2 separate regions of the Homo sapiens genome follow, and region 2 is linked to region 1. A link means that fine-mapping ties the variant in region 1 to the expression of a gene that starts in the linked region. Tissue or cell type: whole blood. Region 1 holds a variant in brackets; the other region holds the start of a gene. All regions are shown on one strand. Distances are between the middles of the regions.

What was found. PIP is the estimated chance that this variant, and not a neighbour inherited with it, causes the effect.
Region 2: ODAD4 starts here. The variant in region 1 is fine-mapped to the expression of ODAD4 in whole blood (TOPMed, PIP above 0.99).

The regions. Positions count from the first base shown.
Region 1 is chr17:41,961,733-41,969,832 of GRCh38, reverse strand. ODAD4 (outer dynein arm docking complex subunit 4) reads right to left here. Exons shown (of 12, transcript NM_031421.5): 12 at 3,330-4,840. The coding sequence ends at 4,350. It overlaps CNP (2'',3''-cyclic nucleotide 3'' phosphodiesterase), which reads right to left and starts at 3,038. Exons shown (of 4, transcript NM_033133.5): 1 at 2,946-3,038; 2 at 1,093-1,765. The coding sequence starts at 2,948. RefSeq lists enhancers at 891-1,448, 1,449-2,006, 2,007-2,564, 3,666-3,765 and silencers at 2,536-2,725, 2,856-3,295, 6,598-6,747. The variant CTT/T (reference allele first, on the strand shown) is at 4,096.
Region 2 is chr17:41,927,492-41,935,591 of GRCh38, reverse strand. It overlaps ODAD4 (outer dynein arm docking complex subunit 4), which reads right to left and starts at 4,975. Exons shown (of 12, transcript NM_031421.5): 1 at 4,755-4,975; 2 at 244-375. The coding sequence starts at 4,868. It also overlaps a transcript of ACLY not described here. RefSeq lists enhancers at 1-149, 4,867-4,966, 5,147-5,236, 4,949-5,852.

The DNA.
Region 1 (8,100 bases):
TGTAATCCCAGCACTTTGGGAGGCCAAGGCAAGCGGATCACCTGAGGTCAGGAGTTCAATACCAGCCTGGCCAACATTGTGAAACTCCGTCTCTACTAAAAATACAAAAATTAGCTGGACGTGGTGGTGCACACCTGTAGTCCTAGCTACTCGAGAGGCTGAGGCAGGAGAATTGCTTGAATCTGGGAGGCAGAGGTTGCACTGAGCTGAGATAGCGCCACTGCACTCCAGCCTGGGCAACAGAGGGAGACTCCGTGTCACAATAAATAAATAAATAAAATTGGAGGCAACCAGAAATGGCCTAAAGGCATATAGATGGATTAGTGGGTGGCACTTCTCCAACAGGTCACTCCAGGAGAGCCACCAGGACCCTTCTTTATCTCAAACCTATCATTGGAGCAAAAAGCCCATGCCAAGAGAGAACCCTGCTAGAGTGGCCAGAGTCCAGGGTTCCAGCCCGTAAACCCCACATCCCTCCTGGGTCCATGTTTTTCCATCTGAAAACGGGTTTTGGCCTAAGTGTGAGACTTGTGTCCTCTGGAGCTGCAGATGCCACAAACCCATGAGTAAATTGAGCAGTCCGAGGCCTGAGAACCATCCCCAGTGAAGCCACAATAGTCCTAGTTTTAATTTTTTTGCAGCTTACAATTTCATGTGATTATTATTATTATTTTTTGGAACATGATTCTGCTGCTAAAAATGCGTTGGAAAACACTGGGCTTGATTCCCCCTCTAAGGTTACATTAGAAGAGGACATGTTTCCTGTTACTACAGTAATTTGTTTTTCCCACCTCCAAGACAAGGGACAGTGGTCTACATTCAGGCTGGGAAAAGGGTGTCGGAGAGAAGAGGGCTAGAAGGATAGGTGTGGTGGGAGGAAAGGCGCTCTGGGAAGCCCCCGTGTTCCCAATGTGCTGCCAACTCCCCAAGGCTACCACTGGGACGCACCGCTTGCCCCTGCCCCCGCTGAGGTGAGCCTCTCTCTGCCTCCTGCTGCTTCGTGCTCCATCCTTTGAGTACAATGATGGTCCTTTGCCCGCAGCACCCTGTGCCCAGCAAGGTGGGCTTATAAGGCCCCAACCTGCCACCTACATTGTCGCAGCTCCTTCTTGAAGGCCTTGTGGTTCCCCAGCTCTTCCAGGAAGACCTGGCCGGCTTTGCGGAGGGTCTCAGAGCTCTTCTTGGTCAGGAACCAGCCGAAGTAGAGCGGCAGGAAGTCCTTCTCCAGCCCAGGCTTCAGCTTCTTCAGGTCATCAGCCGACAGCTGCCACTGGTTCTTCTCCTTGAGCTGGGCACAGTCCAGCCGCCACGCCGTCTTGGGCTCCACCAGCACCACCTGGTACTGGTACTGGTCGGCCATTTCAAAGAGCTGCTCCAGCCGTTCCCGTTCGTGGTTGGTGTCATCAAGCACAAGAATTCTGATGTCCCGGCGGCGGCAGTAGGCAGCCAGGTCCTCATCGAGCCGCTTGTACTCCTCGGAGAAGGCTCCTCGAGCGCCGGGGGTGATCTTGTAAGCGTCAGCCGACACCATCTTGGTGCCATCACGGTACTTGTCCACGATGACCCGTGCCAGCGTGGACTTGCCGCTTCCTGGCAGGCCGCGCAAGATGAAGAGCGTCTTGCACTCTAGCAGCGTGGCCACTGTGTCCTCATCCTGAAGGAAGGGAAACTGCAGCTCAGGCTTGTCCTTGGCCCCTGAGGATGACATCTTGCGGAAGAAGATCTTGGGCAGGAATGTGTGGCTTTTTCGGGAGAAGCCTCTGTTCTGTGTAAGGAGGGGAAGAGATGTCAGCCCAGGTCATTCGCGGGCTCCCCGCCGGCCTTACCCCTAGTCCCTAGACTGGTTGTGGGTGCCTTCCCAAGCGGGGCAGTGCTGGACCTTCTTTCCCTTTCGGTCCGGGAGCACCTTTCCGCTTCTGGTCGTGGAGGAGGAAGAGGGAAGCTTGTCTGAAGCTCTCCTAAGCGTGCGCTTTCCCCATTCCTGCCACTTCGGAAAGGTAAACGTGCTGGAGGCATGCGGGGCGCGCCAGGAGCCTGCGGTTCTGGGACTGGCCTCACTCTTATATGCTTGGCACCTACTAAGGACGTCCTCTTTGGAGGTGGGGGTCTCTGTGTCTGGGCCAAGCCACAGCTGCCACGGCTGAGTGCACAGAGAAGGGGGGGAGTGGAGAAGGGTTACCCCAAGACTGCCTCCCTTCCCCCAACAATGGCCGCAACAGATAATACTCTCTTGTCTGGCATGCGGGTACAATGGTCCCACAGAAGGGCTGGTGGGGGGCAGGGCAGGAGAGCACTGGACAAAGGCCCTCTTTCACCAAGCCTGCCACCTCCTCCTCTACCCTCTCCCGGCCCCCACAAAGTCGTGGTCTTTGTGCCTGTCCAGAACAGGGCAGCACAGGGCACCTGCAATTAGGATCCAGCTCTACCCGCCGCTGTGCTGTGTGTCAGAAGCGCCTCTCGGAGCCACTTGTTTTCCTATCTTCTAGAAGCCACAAGGGACGGCAGCTTTTACCGTAAAGGGTCCCCTCCTCTGAACTGGCTCCACCTCCCGCCCGCACCCGGGCGCGGGGCAGCGGTTCCGCGTGATGAGACTGGGCCCGGGGAGGGGGCGCCGAAGCGGCTGCCCCAGCGCGGGCCTGCGTGGGGTCGGGAGCAGCTCCCGGGCTCCCGGCCCAGGCCCACCCAGGCTCCCAGAGGCGCAGCAGCTTCTGCGGTCCCGAGTTCCCTCCTGAGAAACACCACCGTTTCCCTTTACAGCGGCCTCTCCGGCACCCCAAAACCCCTCCGCTTCTCCCAGACCTCAGGGCCGCCCTGAGTACCAAGAAAACTGGAAGTCGAACCCGGAGCCCCGGGTCCTCGTTTGCAAGACGCTTCCTCCCGAGGGGCCCCGACACTCGTTTCCCGCCCTGGTGCTACCCCGTGCCCGGCCCCGCCCGGCCTCTCACCATGATGAGGAGGGGCGCCACCGTCGCCGCCTCTGCCGGCACCAGCGCTCCGGGGCCGCCCGCCTGCGCGGAGGGACACGGGAGTCCAGCGGTGGCACGACCCGAGCCCGGCCGCTTTACATAGCCCGGGGGGCGGAGCGGGCACCCGGGCGGGCTGGGGGCGGGCCGTCTCCTCTGCGCGCAGGCGCTGCGAACCAAAACCCGAAACTCTCGCCGCGCGCGGGAACCTCGGCCCGGTCCCGCCCCCTGCGCGCGCCTGCTCCCCACGCGCACCCACCCACTGCGCCTGCGAGCTGAGCGGCCACTAGCTTTTTCTGCGTGTTGAGGGGTAACTCAGTCACCCTCCCCGGTCCCGTGGATTAGCAGGAAGTGAGTGAGGCAGGGTCGTGCAAAGTCGGATCCTGTCTTTAATTTTTGATATTTTATTCATCATGGACTTTTGCATTAATTAAAAACTTTTTTTTTTACCACATTGGATTAAAATATTATCATGCAATTTGCTGGCATTCCGGTAAACTCTGCATCTGAAATGCCTCACTGGCCTCATTCGTCCAGGCCCTGTGCCAGCCGAAAGTCAGTCTCAGCCCCGACCTTTCCTTCTAGGAGCTGTGGAGACAGACCAGGATGGCAATGGCCAAAGGGACAGATGAGTAACGGAGTGAAATCCTAACATCCTCTGAGGCCAGATCCTCAGCTGCCACCTCCTCTGTGAAACCACTGAGAGCTCCGTTGGATTTTTGAGTTTCCTGTCCAAGTGCTGTGCTAAGCACTCAGTCCTCGCAGCAACCCCTGAGGCAGGTATCCCATTGTTCAGAGGAGAAGCCAGCTTGGAGAGCCTGATTTACCTGATTATGCCACCCAGAGGTGTCAGAGGCGGAGTCTGTCTGCCCTCCCGACTCCCAGGCCACTCCCCTATCTTTGGCCTCACTCCCAGCATTCGCTTGGTTCTGGCTTGCGGCATTCTCCTACCTGTGACAGCTGGGGCCGCCCCACCACTGTTCCATCCATAAAGCCTCCCCGCTGTCCTGCGCACTGGAGGGACTCAGTCAGTCACCGGTGTGTGGGAAGCACCTCTCCTCCCAGGCCTTCCCCTCTCCTCCCTGTGACTTCTTGTTCCCTGTAGCGCCCGTATCTTCACCCTCCTGAAACC[CTT/T]TCTTCTTGGCACCTTTCTCATTTCTTCCACGATGCTCTTCCAAGAATGGGCAGGGGTGAAGAGGCAAAGTGACAGACTCAGGGTTTGCAAGAGTGAAAGACACCTATTTAATGGCAAAATAGTGATGGAAAGCAGCAGAAGTAAAACCCTCATTTTTCCTATAACAGACAAATCGCTTGAAAATCCAGTTTAATAAAATCCCATGATCCCTCTGAACACCAGCTTCCTGATCCTCATCTCTACCGATGGCTTCATTCATATTCCTTTTCCATCTCATTTCCTGTTTTTTTCGTTTCTCCTATTTCTCCAAATTGTGTTTTTCCCAGTTCTTCTGGCTCTCTTCTGCCCACTTCTGAAAGTTTCTTTAGTTCTTCTGGTTCCTGTCTGCTGAATTCTCCTGAGAGTCTTTGCTCTAATTCTCCCGAAGGCCTCCTATAAATTTCTCTTGACTCTCTTCTGCCAGCTTCTAGTAGCTTCCTGCCTGTTTCTCCTGATCTTGTGCCTAATTCTCCTGACAGGCCCTTGGCAACTGCTCCCAAATCGCTTCTGGCTTTTCCTGCTTCCACACTCTGCTTTCCGCTTGCTGGGCTCTGCAGAGCTTCCCCAAAAGCCTCATCGTCCTCATCTGTCTCTTTCTCATCCTCACTATGGTCCCACTGCTTCACCACCTTCTCGGGCTCATCTCTCACTCTCCTCATGTCCTTCTCTCTTGTTATTATTCTATCTTCATACAGTGAAGCTTCTGAAAAATAAGAGAAAAGCGGGAAGAAAGATAAAAGTTTGTTCATGTCAGGCCGGGTGCGGTGGCTCACGCCTGTAATCTCAGCACTTTGGGAGGCTGAGGCAGGCAGATCCCTTGAGGCCAGGAGTTCCAGACCAGCCTGGGCGACACAGTGAGACCCTGTCTGTACTAAAAATACAAAAATTAGCCAGGCGTGGTGGTTGGCGCCTGTAGTCCCAGCTACCCGGAGGCTGAGGCAGAAGAATCGCTTGAGCCCAGGAGGTTGGGGCTGTGATGAGCCAAAATCCAGCCACTGCACTGCAGCCTGGGTGACAGAGCAAGACCCGTCTCCAAAAAAGAAAGAAGAAAAAAAAGAAAGAAACTGTTCATCTCTGTGGAGGCCTGTGCTTTTGAGAGGCCGATGAGAGAAAGGCCCTGAGAATGACTGTTTTTGCCAGCTCTTTAAATTGGTGTTGACAGCACACCTTTCCAAAAGCAGAGAAAGGGAACCATCATTGACTGAGCCCAGCTCCGTCCTGTGCATCACGTGAGGGCTGTATAGCTTATCCCATCCAGACATCATGAAAATGCGCACTGCCGTTGATTTGAGTTTGCAGTCAAGGGACCTGAGATCGATAGAAAAGAAATCACACGGCCGGGCGGCATGGCTCACGCCTGTAATCCCAGCACTTTGGGAGGCCGAGGCAGGTGGATCACCTGAGGTCAGGAGTTTGAGACCAGCCTGGCCAACAAGGTGAAACCCCGTCTCTACTAAAAATACAAAAATAAGCTGGGCATGGTGGCAGGCGCCTGTAATCCCAGCTACTTGGGAGGCTGAGGCAGGAGAATCGCTTGAACCCAGGAGGCGGAGGTTGCAGTGAGCCAAGATTGTGCCATTGTACTCCAGCCTGGGCAACAAGAGCAAAACTCCATCTCAAAAAAAAAAAAAATTAACCGGGAGTGGTGGCACAAGACTGTAGTCCCAGCTACTCAGGAGGCTGAGGCAGGAGAATCACTTGAACCTAGGAGGCGGAGGTTGTAGTGAGCCGAGATCGCGCCACTGCACTCCAGACTGGGTAACAGAGGGGAGACTCCATTTCAAAAAAAAAAAAAGGCACAGTGGCTCATGCCTGTAATCCCAGCACTTTGGGAGGCTGAGATGGAGGTTGCAGTGAGCTGAGATCGCGCCACTGCACTCCAGACTGGGTAACAGAGGGGAGACTCCATTTCAAAAAAAAAAAGGCACAGTGGCTCATGCCTGTAATCCCAGCACTTTGGGAGGCTGAGATGGAGGTTGCAGTGAGCTGAGATTGCACCACTGCATTCCAGCCTGGATGACAGAACAAGACTCCGTTTCAAAAAAAAAAAAAAAGAAAGAAAAGAAATCACACAATGGTCACACTGCAAGTGTGCAAGTGAGACAGAATTTGAACCCAGGACAGTCTGACCCCAGAACACCTCTTTTCCCTGCAAGAAATAGCATAGGTGCTGGAAAATGACAGAAGGATTTTCTCCAGCATCTTCATTCTGACACTTTCTCTTTGTCCCTGGGAAGCACATTCATTATTTGTTGGGAGGTTTCCTATGAAAATATAGAAAAAACATAAGGAAAAAGATAGGTTTCCTATAAAGATATACGCTGCTAACAAAAAGTTCAGCTGAAGAGTTATTTTACAAGCAAAGGGATCCTTGCTCCTAAATTTTTTTTTTTATCAGTTATGGAGAAAAGTTACATCCCCTTCTGCGTCTCCCTTACATTCTCCTCCTGGAAACCACTAGTTACTGAGGTATCTGCAGAGGGTCTCAGGTCTCAGGGGGTCACAGCCCTTTGGTGGTGAAAACAGATGCAATGCTGCCACCTGCTGTTCTGAGAGGGACGTGCCCGGCAGTTCTCCAGGCACAAGGACGCAGGCCAGGGTAGGGAGACTGGGGTGTTGGCTGCTTCCCCGCAGAGTCTCTCTCCACAGCTGTTGCTCCTGTGGCTTCTCAGAGCAGCTCAAAGGGCATGTGGGGGCGGAGACAGAGCCCCTCTGAGGGGGTCCAGCCACCACAGAGCAGGTGCTGGATAATAAAGGGCTGTCATCTGGCTGCTCAGGTGCCCAGAAACCTCCCGCTGCCCTGCCTGGACCAGAAAGGATTTCAGCCTTGCAGCCTGGAGGGCTGCAGCCAAGAATCTGCATTGGGCTCTGTCCTCCCGGACCTCCAGCCCCAGCTCTGTTCACTGCAGTCTGGCTGGAGTGAGAGCTCCACAGACTGGGGCAGGAAAAGGCTGTCTGTGTCACTAGAAACAGTGTGGCACGGGCCGACGCGTGGGTTCTAGAGCAGACTGCCCAAGACTGAAAACCACTGTAGCCTCTAACCCCTCTGCCTCCATGTCCTCCATAAAGTCAAGCTAATAACACTTCCTTCATAGTGTTCCTGAACAGATACAGATAGGATGAGTCCGTGCACACAGTCTTTGAAAGAATGCCTGGCCTGCGGGAAGCATGAATGGGGGTCGGCTACTGCGCTTAACACCCCTGTTCCTCTAGGCCCCTCTCCAGTGGGGTAGGGCTGCTCAGCCATCTTCTGCTTCTCCTTCCCTCACTCCCTCCCTGCAGGAAAGGAGAGCCCAAAGGCAGGGGGCCAAAGGCCTGTTTACTCCCTGGAGACCTTGTGAGAAAGAATGTGGTAAGGCACAGCTGTCAGGCAGCCTCTGCACCTTATGCCCCTCTGCACCTGCCCATCACACTGCTGGCCCGAGAGCAGCGCCGCAGGTGGGGAGAGTGGGGCCCCGAGTCACCCCTCCCTAGCTACATGACTCTGGCAGAGCACTCACCTCACTCAGCCTCCCTTTCCCCCCACAGCACCTACACCTCCTAGTGGGGTAAAGACCCAACAAGATCACTCCTGTCTGGTGCTTAACCCAGTGCCTAGCACACAGTAAGAGCCCCCAAAGTGTAGCTACTGTTATTCTGTCTCTGTGCCTCTGGCCCTGCTGTTCCCTGCTGGAAAAATGCCTTTCTTCTCCCACTTCTCTCCTGGAAAACTCCTGGGCATCTTTTGGAGTTGGAGGTAGAAGATTTTTCCTCGTCGAAGCCTCCTCTGCCTCCCCAGAGGAGCCCACGCCCCGTTGCATGCACCCTCATGGCAGCACACCTCCACCTCGGTGTAGCACCTGTGTGCAGGATCCCAGCAGCTGACAACTCCACTGGTCAGCCTTGCCCAAAGGGCCATGGGCTCCTCCAGGGCAGGGATGGGCCTCTCTCCCCAGAATCTAACACCTTCCAGGTACATGACAA
Region 2 (8,100 bases), 34 kb after region 1:
GGGAGGAAATCAAATCAATGTGAACAGATAAGGCCTTATAGGACTCACATGTGGTGGAACAGAAGGGTCCTGGGTTGAAGGTCAAGGTTGGAATACAGGGGGCAGGGACTTAGGCAATGACCTAGGAAGAGAAAATGGCATCAAACACTAGGCAGTCTGGCTGGTTCTACTTGTAACAACTACTTGTAACCAGAAGTTGCTACAGGCAATGGCAGGATCCAGTCCTCCCGCCCATGCAGTCACCTTACAGAAAGCTGGGTCACTCTGGAGCGAAGCCTCAGCATCCTTCAGGGATCTCTCCAAGTCTCCCATCTTCAGGAAGCACTTTGAGCGAGCAACCAGGCAGTTCTTGTCTCCATCCTGAAGGTAAAGAGCCTGACAAAGAAACCAGTCAGGTTGACAGCCAGCATGAAGAGCAAGGTAGAAGCTGGAGTGGGAAGGGCAGCCCAAACCCTCCTGCAGAGGGGATTTCTTCAGGCTCTGAAGAAATCAAGGCTCTGAAGAATCAAGGGGATTCTTCAGGCCAGCACACAGGCCTCTGGCTCCTAAGCAGAACAACTCCGATCTGCGCTCAGTCAACTTGATTATCTGCATATGGCTCACCTTGAACAAGGTCAAATCATGGCTATTGTGGAAGCCACTGGCTGAAGAGTAGGAATATGCTGCTCTGTGGATACGCTGACTTTCCACCAATGTCTGAGAGCCCCTCAGTCCCCTCAGGCAATAGAACTGTAGGGTATTTTGTGCACACCAAACTCAACTACAAACCTGAAATGGCAACACATCATACTCAAAGCAAATTTCAAAGGCTAAGCATTCTGAAGTGGACTTGAGGACAATCTGCCATGTGGCTTAACCATTCCAGTAGCCTTCTCTTTTTATGTAGCTAATCAAGAACTAATCACTATATCCGGGGATTAAGATGAAAATACCAGGAAAAGGCTGGGAGTGGTGGCTCACACCTGTAATCCCAGCACTTTGGCAGGTCGAGGTGGGCGGAACGCTTGAGCCCAAGAGTTTGAGACCAGCCTGGGCAACATGGCAAAACCCTGTCTCTACGAAATACAAAAAAATTAGCTGGGCGTGGTGGTCCATGATTGTAGTCCCAGCTACTCAGGAGGCTGAGATGGGAGGATTGCTTGAACCTGGAGAGGTCGAGGCTGCATAAGCCATGATCACACCACTGCACTCCAGCCTGGGTGACAGAATGAGACTCTGTCTCAAAAAACAAAACAAAACAAAACAAAAAGAGGCCGGGTGCAGTGGCTCACACCTGTAATCCCAGAACTTTGGGAGACCAAGGTGGGTGGGTCACTTGAAGTCAGGAGTTTGAGACCAGCCTGGCCAACGTGGTGAAACCCATTTCTACTAAAAATACAAAAATTAGCCAGACATGGTGGTAAGCACCTGTAATCCCAGCTACTCGGGAGTCTAAGGCAAGAAAATCGCTTGAACCTGGGAGGCAGAGGTTGCAGTGAACTGAGATCATGCCACTGCACTCCAGCCTGGGTGATGGAGTGAGACGCTGTCTCAAAAAAAAAAAAAAAAAAAAAGAAAGAAAGAAAAAAGAAAGAAAGGGAAAAGAAAAATGAAAAACAAGAAAGAAAAAAAAAAAAGAAAATGCTAGGAAAATGAAACTGATTTTGACCCTAAAGTGGGGTTGAGGGCAATATCCCCACTCCCAGTGTCCTCTTTTCTGTGTGAGATGATTACCATAGTCTGTGGTGTACTGTCCTTCCTGAGGCATCTAACTGTACCCACCCCCCTTTTTCTTTTTTGAGACAGAGTCTCACACTGTCACCCAGGCTGGAGTGCAGTGGCACGATCTCTGCTCACTGCAATCTCCGAGTCCCGGGTTGAAGCAATTCTCCTGCTTCAGCCTCCCGAGTACCTGGGACTACGGGTGCCCGCCACCACACCTGGCTAATTTTTTTTTTTTGAGATGGCGTTTTGCTCTTGTTGCCAAAGCTGGAGTGCAATGGCACGATCTCGGCTCACTGCAACCTCCGCCTCCCGGGTTCAAGCAATTCTCCTGCCTCAGCCTCCGGAGTAGCTGGGATTACAGGCACTCGCCACCACGTCCGGTTGATTTTTTGTATTTTTAGTAGAAACAGGGTTTCACCATGTTAGCCAGGCTGGTCTCAAACACCTGACCTCAGGTGATCCACCTGCCTTGGCCTCCCAAAGTGCTGGGATTACAGGCATGAGCCACCTGACCTGGTCTTTTTTTTTTTTTTTTTTGAGACAGAGTTTCACTCTTGTTGCCCAGGCTAGAGTGCAATGGCATGATCTTGGCTCACTGCAACCCTCTGTCTCCTGGTACCCACCCCTTTCTAAGACCTTCCTACTTTTCTAAGAAGAGGAAGTAGCTACTGTCTTTCTGGAAAGTGACTGCTTCTCATCCAAGGCTACCCTTCCCTCAGGGTGTTCTTTTTTCTCTGCTGGTGGGTACTTCAGGATGGGACATGATCCAGCAGGAGGAGAATAAGTGGGGACAGGGCTACCGAACTCAATTGTTCACTTATCTGGTCATCATTTCTGGTTTTAGGGTGTGGTTGGTGACTGAAAGGGACAAACGACTCTGGGGAGCTGTTGAGAAGCTTGATCTTACAGGAAGTCTCAAAACTACAGGGTTATCCTATCACTCCATCTAGAAGAAGAAGTGGGCAATTTGGAGCAGAAGAAGTGGGCAATTTGGAGCAAAAGAAATGGTCATAAAAACATGTTTTTAGGGCACTGTATCTCATACCTGTAATCCTAGCACTTTGTGAGGCCAAAGCGGGAGTATTACTTGAGCTCAAGTGTTCAATACCAGCCAGGGCAACATAGCAAAACACCTATCTCTACAAAAAAAAAAAAAAAAAAGAAGAAAAGAAAAAATTAGCCAGGCGTGGTGGCATAAGCCTGTAGCTCCAGCTACTTGGAACACTAAGGTGGGAGGATCACTTGAGCTCAGGAGTTTGAAGCTGTATTGAGCTGTGATTGTGCCACCACATTCCAGCTTGGGAGACAGAACGAGATCCTGTCTCTGAAAAAACAAACAAACAAAAAAAAAACAACAGTTTCCTTATGCAGATGTCAGATGTGTAGTTTTGTGGTTAGCACCTCAGCATTGGAGTCTGAGCCCGGCTTTGAATCCTTCCTCTGCCACTTGCTAGTTTAGCGACCTTGGGCATGTTGCTCAACTTCTGTATATTTCCTAATCTATAAAATTGAGTATGCACTGGGTGGGGTGGTTCACGCCTGTAATCCCAGCACTTTGGGAGGCTGAGGTGGGGGGGGATCACCTGAGGTGGGGAGTTCGAGATCAACCTGACCAACATGGAGAAACCCCGTCTCTACTAAAAATACAAAATTAGCCGAGCATGGTGGTGCATGCCTGGGATCCCAGCTACTCGGGAGGCTGAGGCAGGAGAATCGCTTGAACCTGGGAGGTGGAGGTTGGGGTGAGCCGAGATTGCGCCACTGCACTCCAGCCTGGGCAAGAAGAGCAAAACTCCATCTTAACAACAACAAAAATCCAGTCTGCTTAGCAGTGTGCCTGAGGCTGAGGCAGGAGAATCACTTGAATCCAGGAGGTGGAGGTTGCAGTGAGCCAAGATCGCACCATTGCACTCCAGCCTGGAGACAGAGCAAGACTACGTCTCCAAAACAACAACAACAACAACAACAACAACAACAAAAACCATCACCCAATCCCCTTAGGGTGGGATGATGCAATTTATACTAGGGTTACTATAATAATGTTGCTGGTTGGTGCAGCAGCTCACCTCAGTAATCCCAGCACTTTGGGGGGCCGAGGCAGGTGTATCACTTGAGGTCAGGAGTTCGACACCAGCCTGGCCAACATGGTGAAACCCTGTCTCTACTAAGAATACAAAAATTAGCCAGGCGTGGTGGGACATGCCTGTAATCCCAACTACTCCCTAGGCTGAGGCAGGAAAATCGCTTGAACCTGGGGAGGCGGAAGTTGCAGTGAGCTGAGATCTTGCCACTGCACTCCAGCCTGGGCAACATAGCAAAACTTTGTCTCAAAATTGATAATAATAATCATATGTTGCTTACTGGCCACCTTTTATAAGCAACGGTGTGCTGGGGACATTGAGGCTTCTGCATGCAACCTCCCATCCAATCTGCCAGCAAATGATGGGAAGGTAAGGCTGCTCTGTGGAAGGAGGCCGGTTAATCATGAAACATTTAAGTAAAAGTGGAGGAAAAGGTCACTGTTAACGCAGAGAATGGAGATTGCAAGTGGGAACTGGTAGAAAATGGCCAACCACAGGGCTTATCTGTGACAGCAGTGTGTCCATCAAAAATCAGTGAATAATAGAAACAACAGGGTCCTCCAGGCATCATCAAGACCTCAGTGTTATCTGCAATCAAAAGGTGAGGGCAGGGGGCAGGCGCAGTGGCTCACGCCTGTAATCCCAGCACTTTGGGAGGCCGAAGCGGGTGGATCACGAGGTCAGGAGTTCGAGACCAGCCTGGCCAACACAGTGAAACCCCCATCTCTACTAAAAAGACAAAATAATTAGCCGGGCATGGTGGCACGCGCCTGTAGTCCCAGCTACTTGGGAGGTGGAGGCAGGAGAATCACTTGAACCCGGGAGGCGGAGGTTGCGGCGAGCCGAGATCGTGCCATTGCACTCCAGCCTAGGCAACAAGAGCGAAACTCCGTCACAAAAAAAAAAAAAAAAAAAAAAAAAAAAAGTGACGGGTGATGGGGTGATGGATAGGTTGAGAGCTCGACTCACGTTGCTGAAGCTCTGCGCGGCTTTAGAAAATTCCCCGCACAGGTAGAGCCGCTCGCCTTCGGCCATATAAGAGGGAAAGGTGCTTCGCAAGGTCTCGCCTTCGGGGTCCGACATGGTGACCGGATTTAGAGACGCTAAAGCAGAGACAATCAAAGAAAAGCTGGAGAACCTCTATCTGGTTTGTGGAAGCTCCGTTTCTTAGCAACCATGAGATGTACAGCGACTTCCGGTTCCGCCCCCGTCTGGCAAGGGCCCGGATTCTGGGTACAACCTGCCGGCGTGCGCTTGCGCCAGTTCTGCCGCGCACTGGGCCAGGGAGTGATGATTGCGTGGCTGACGGCTGGGCTGGTTAGTGTTTGCTGTTGCACGCTCTGGCGGTTCTCTCTGGAGTTGCTGCCTGAAAAGGCTCCCTTGTAAGACAGCCAAGAAAACAGGAAGAGGGTTGGAGGCAAAGTTCCGAATAGGGATGAGGCATACGTGGTAAGGATATGTGCACGGCGTACCGCCATTAGGGGGAGAGAGCACTGGGCTTGGAGTCAGCAGACTTGGGCTGACTTCGCTCCTGTCACTTCCTAACTGCGTGACCTCTCGCGGGGCATGTAAGGGCTCCCAGCCTCGAATGTTCCACCTGCCAAATAAATATGAAAATAATGGAACACTCAGGGATGCGAGGATTTGCATAAGAAAACATGGAAAATAACGTTGGGTTCAACATAATTTAACGCAGTTATTTGAGCAGCTACTAGTAGCGGGCCTTGACCAAGGCATATTCTGACGTCCTTCCCCATTCCCTCACCATCACCACTCCTCCAAAAGTGGACTAGGTGCTTCTTCTGGGCTCCAACGATACCCTAAGTAGCTTGCTTAACTGCCTTTACTACGTTACTTCCAAAACGTCCTAATGTCATTGTTAAAGTTTAAATAGTAAAAAGATGTCTTTAACTACAAATGCACACACACACACACACACACGGCATACATGTAAAACTGGGGATATTTGAGTAAGATCAGTGGATTGTATCAGTGTCAATTTTCTGGTTGTGTTATTGTACTAAAGTTTTTAAGGATGTTACCATTGGGAGAAACTGGGAAAAGGGTACATGGGATCTCTTTTGTATTTATTTCTTATGAACTGCATATGAATCTATGATTATCTCAAAAGGTTTAATTCAAAATATAAGAAATAATATGGTCCCTGCTTGAAGGAGTTTTATCTAATAGGGGAGAAAGATGTATAAACAAGTAACGGCCACTTAAGTGATATTAACTAGTAATTAAAAGTTCTGTGTGCCTGTGAGGGAGATGAGGACAAAGTGGTGTGAAACCCAGGCAAATGAATGATTCAGCCAGGGTCTGGGATGGGTTAGAGACATGTTCATAGAGGGGTAATATTTGAGCTGAGGGTGAGTATGGTGGAGCCCAGTAGACGTAAGTAGAGAATGAGAGCTAGGTGTGGTGGCTCATGCCTGTAATCCCAGTACTTTGGAGACTGAGGTGGGAGGATCGCTTGAGCTCAGGAGTTCGAGACCAGTCTGGGCAACATGGCGAAGCCCTGTCTCTACCACAAATACAAAAGTGAGCTGGGTGTGGTGGCGTGTGCCTGTAGTCCCAGCTACTCAGGAAGCTGAGGCAGGAGGATCACTTGAGCGTGGGAGGTCGAGGCTGCAGTGAGCCATGTTTGGGCCACTGCATTGTAGCCTGTGTAACAAAGCAAGACCCTGTCTCAAAAAAAAAAAAAAAAAAGGAAATAACATGTGCAAAGGCTGGAGGTGTGTACATTCACAGGGTGTTTAAGGAGCAGCAACAGGTTTAAGGACCTGCAGTGAAACTGGTCCTGTTCTAAGTTAAGGTGGGCTCATTGATGAGTTGAGGACTGTTGCTGGAGCAACCAGGATTAATCAGAAAAAAACCTCCTGCAAGGAAGAGATCTACAGATTCAGTGCAGTTCCAATCAGAACTCCAGCAGCTTTTTTTTTTTTTTTTTTATGGTGGAGTCTCACTCTGTCACTCAGGCTGGAGTGCAGTGATGTGATCTCGGCTCACTGCAATCTCCGCCTCCCGGTTTCAAGCTAGTCTCCTGCCTTAGCCTCCTGAGTAGCTGGGATTACAGGTGCACACCACCATGCCCAGCTAATTTTTTGTATTTTTAGTAGAGATGAGGTTTCACCATGTTGGCCAGGCTGGTCTTGAACTCCTGACCTCAGGTGATCTGCCCGCCTCAGCCTCTCAAAGTGCTGGGATTACAGGCATGAGCCACTGTGCCTGGCCCCAGCAGCCTTTTTTTTTTTTCAGTAATTAACAAGCTGATTTTAAGATTTATGTGGAAATGCAAAAGACCTAAAATAGCCAAAACCATTTTGAAAAAGAAGAACAAAAGAGAACTTAAATTCTGTGATTTCAAGACTTATTTTAAAGCTACGGTAATGGTATTAGCATAAATATGTAAATATATATGGATTAATGGAACAGAAATAGATCCACACATATATGATCAATTGATGTTCAATGAAGTTGCCAAAGAGATTCAATGGAGAAAGGATACTCTTTTCCACAAATGTGTGCTGAAGCAATTGGATAGCCATATGGAAAGACAAAATCCAAAATAAAAAACCTTGATCCTTACCTCACACTATATACAAAAATCAACTGGAAATATTTTAATGTAAATATGTATTTAATTAATTTTTATTTTTATTTTTTGAGAGAGAGTTGGCCTTGTCCACCAGGCTGGAGTGCAGTAGTGAGATCTTGACTCACTGCAACCTCTGCTTTCTGGGCTCAGGCCACCCTCCCACCTCAGCCTCCTGAGTAGCTGGGACTACAGACACGCACCACCACACCCAGCTGATTTTTGTGTTGTTTTGGTAGAGACAGGGTTTTGCCATGTTGCCCAGGCTGGTTTTGAACTCCTGAACTCAAGCAATCCTCCCACCGCGGCCTCTCAAAGTGCCAGGCTTACAGATGTGAGCCACCATGCCTGTCTAAATATAAATATTGAGTTTTTTTTTTTTTGAGATGGAGTCTCACTCTGTCACCCAGGCTGGAGTGCAGTGGCGTGATCTCAGCTCACTGCCACCTCTGCCTCCCAGGTTCAAGTGATTCTTCTGCCTCCGCCTCCCAAGTAGCAGGGACTACAGGTGTGCACCACCATGCCCGGCTAATTTTCATATTTTTGGTAGAGACAGGGTTTCACTGTGTTAGCCAGGCTAATCTCGAACTTCTGACCTCAGGTAATCCACCCACCTTAGCCTCCCAAAGTGCTGTGATTACAGGCATGAGCCACTGCGCCTAGTCTAAACCTTGATCCTTACCTCATACCATATACAAAAATTAACTAGAAATATTT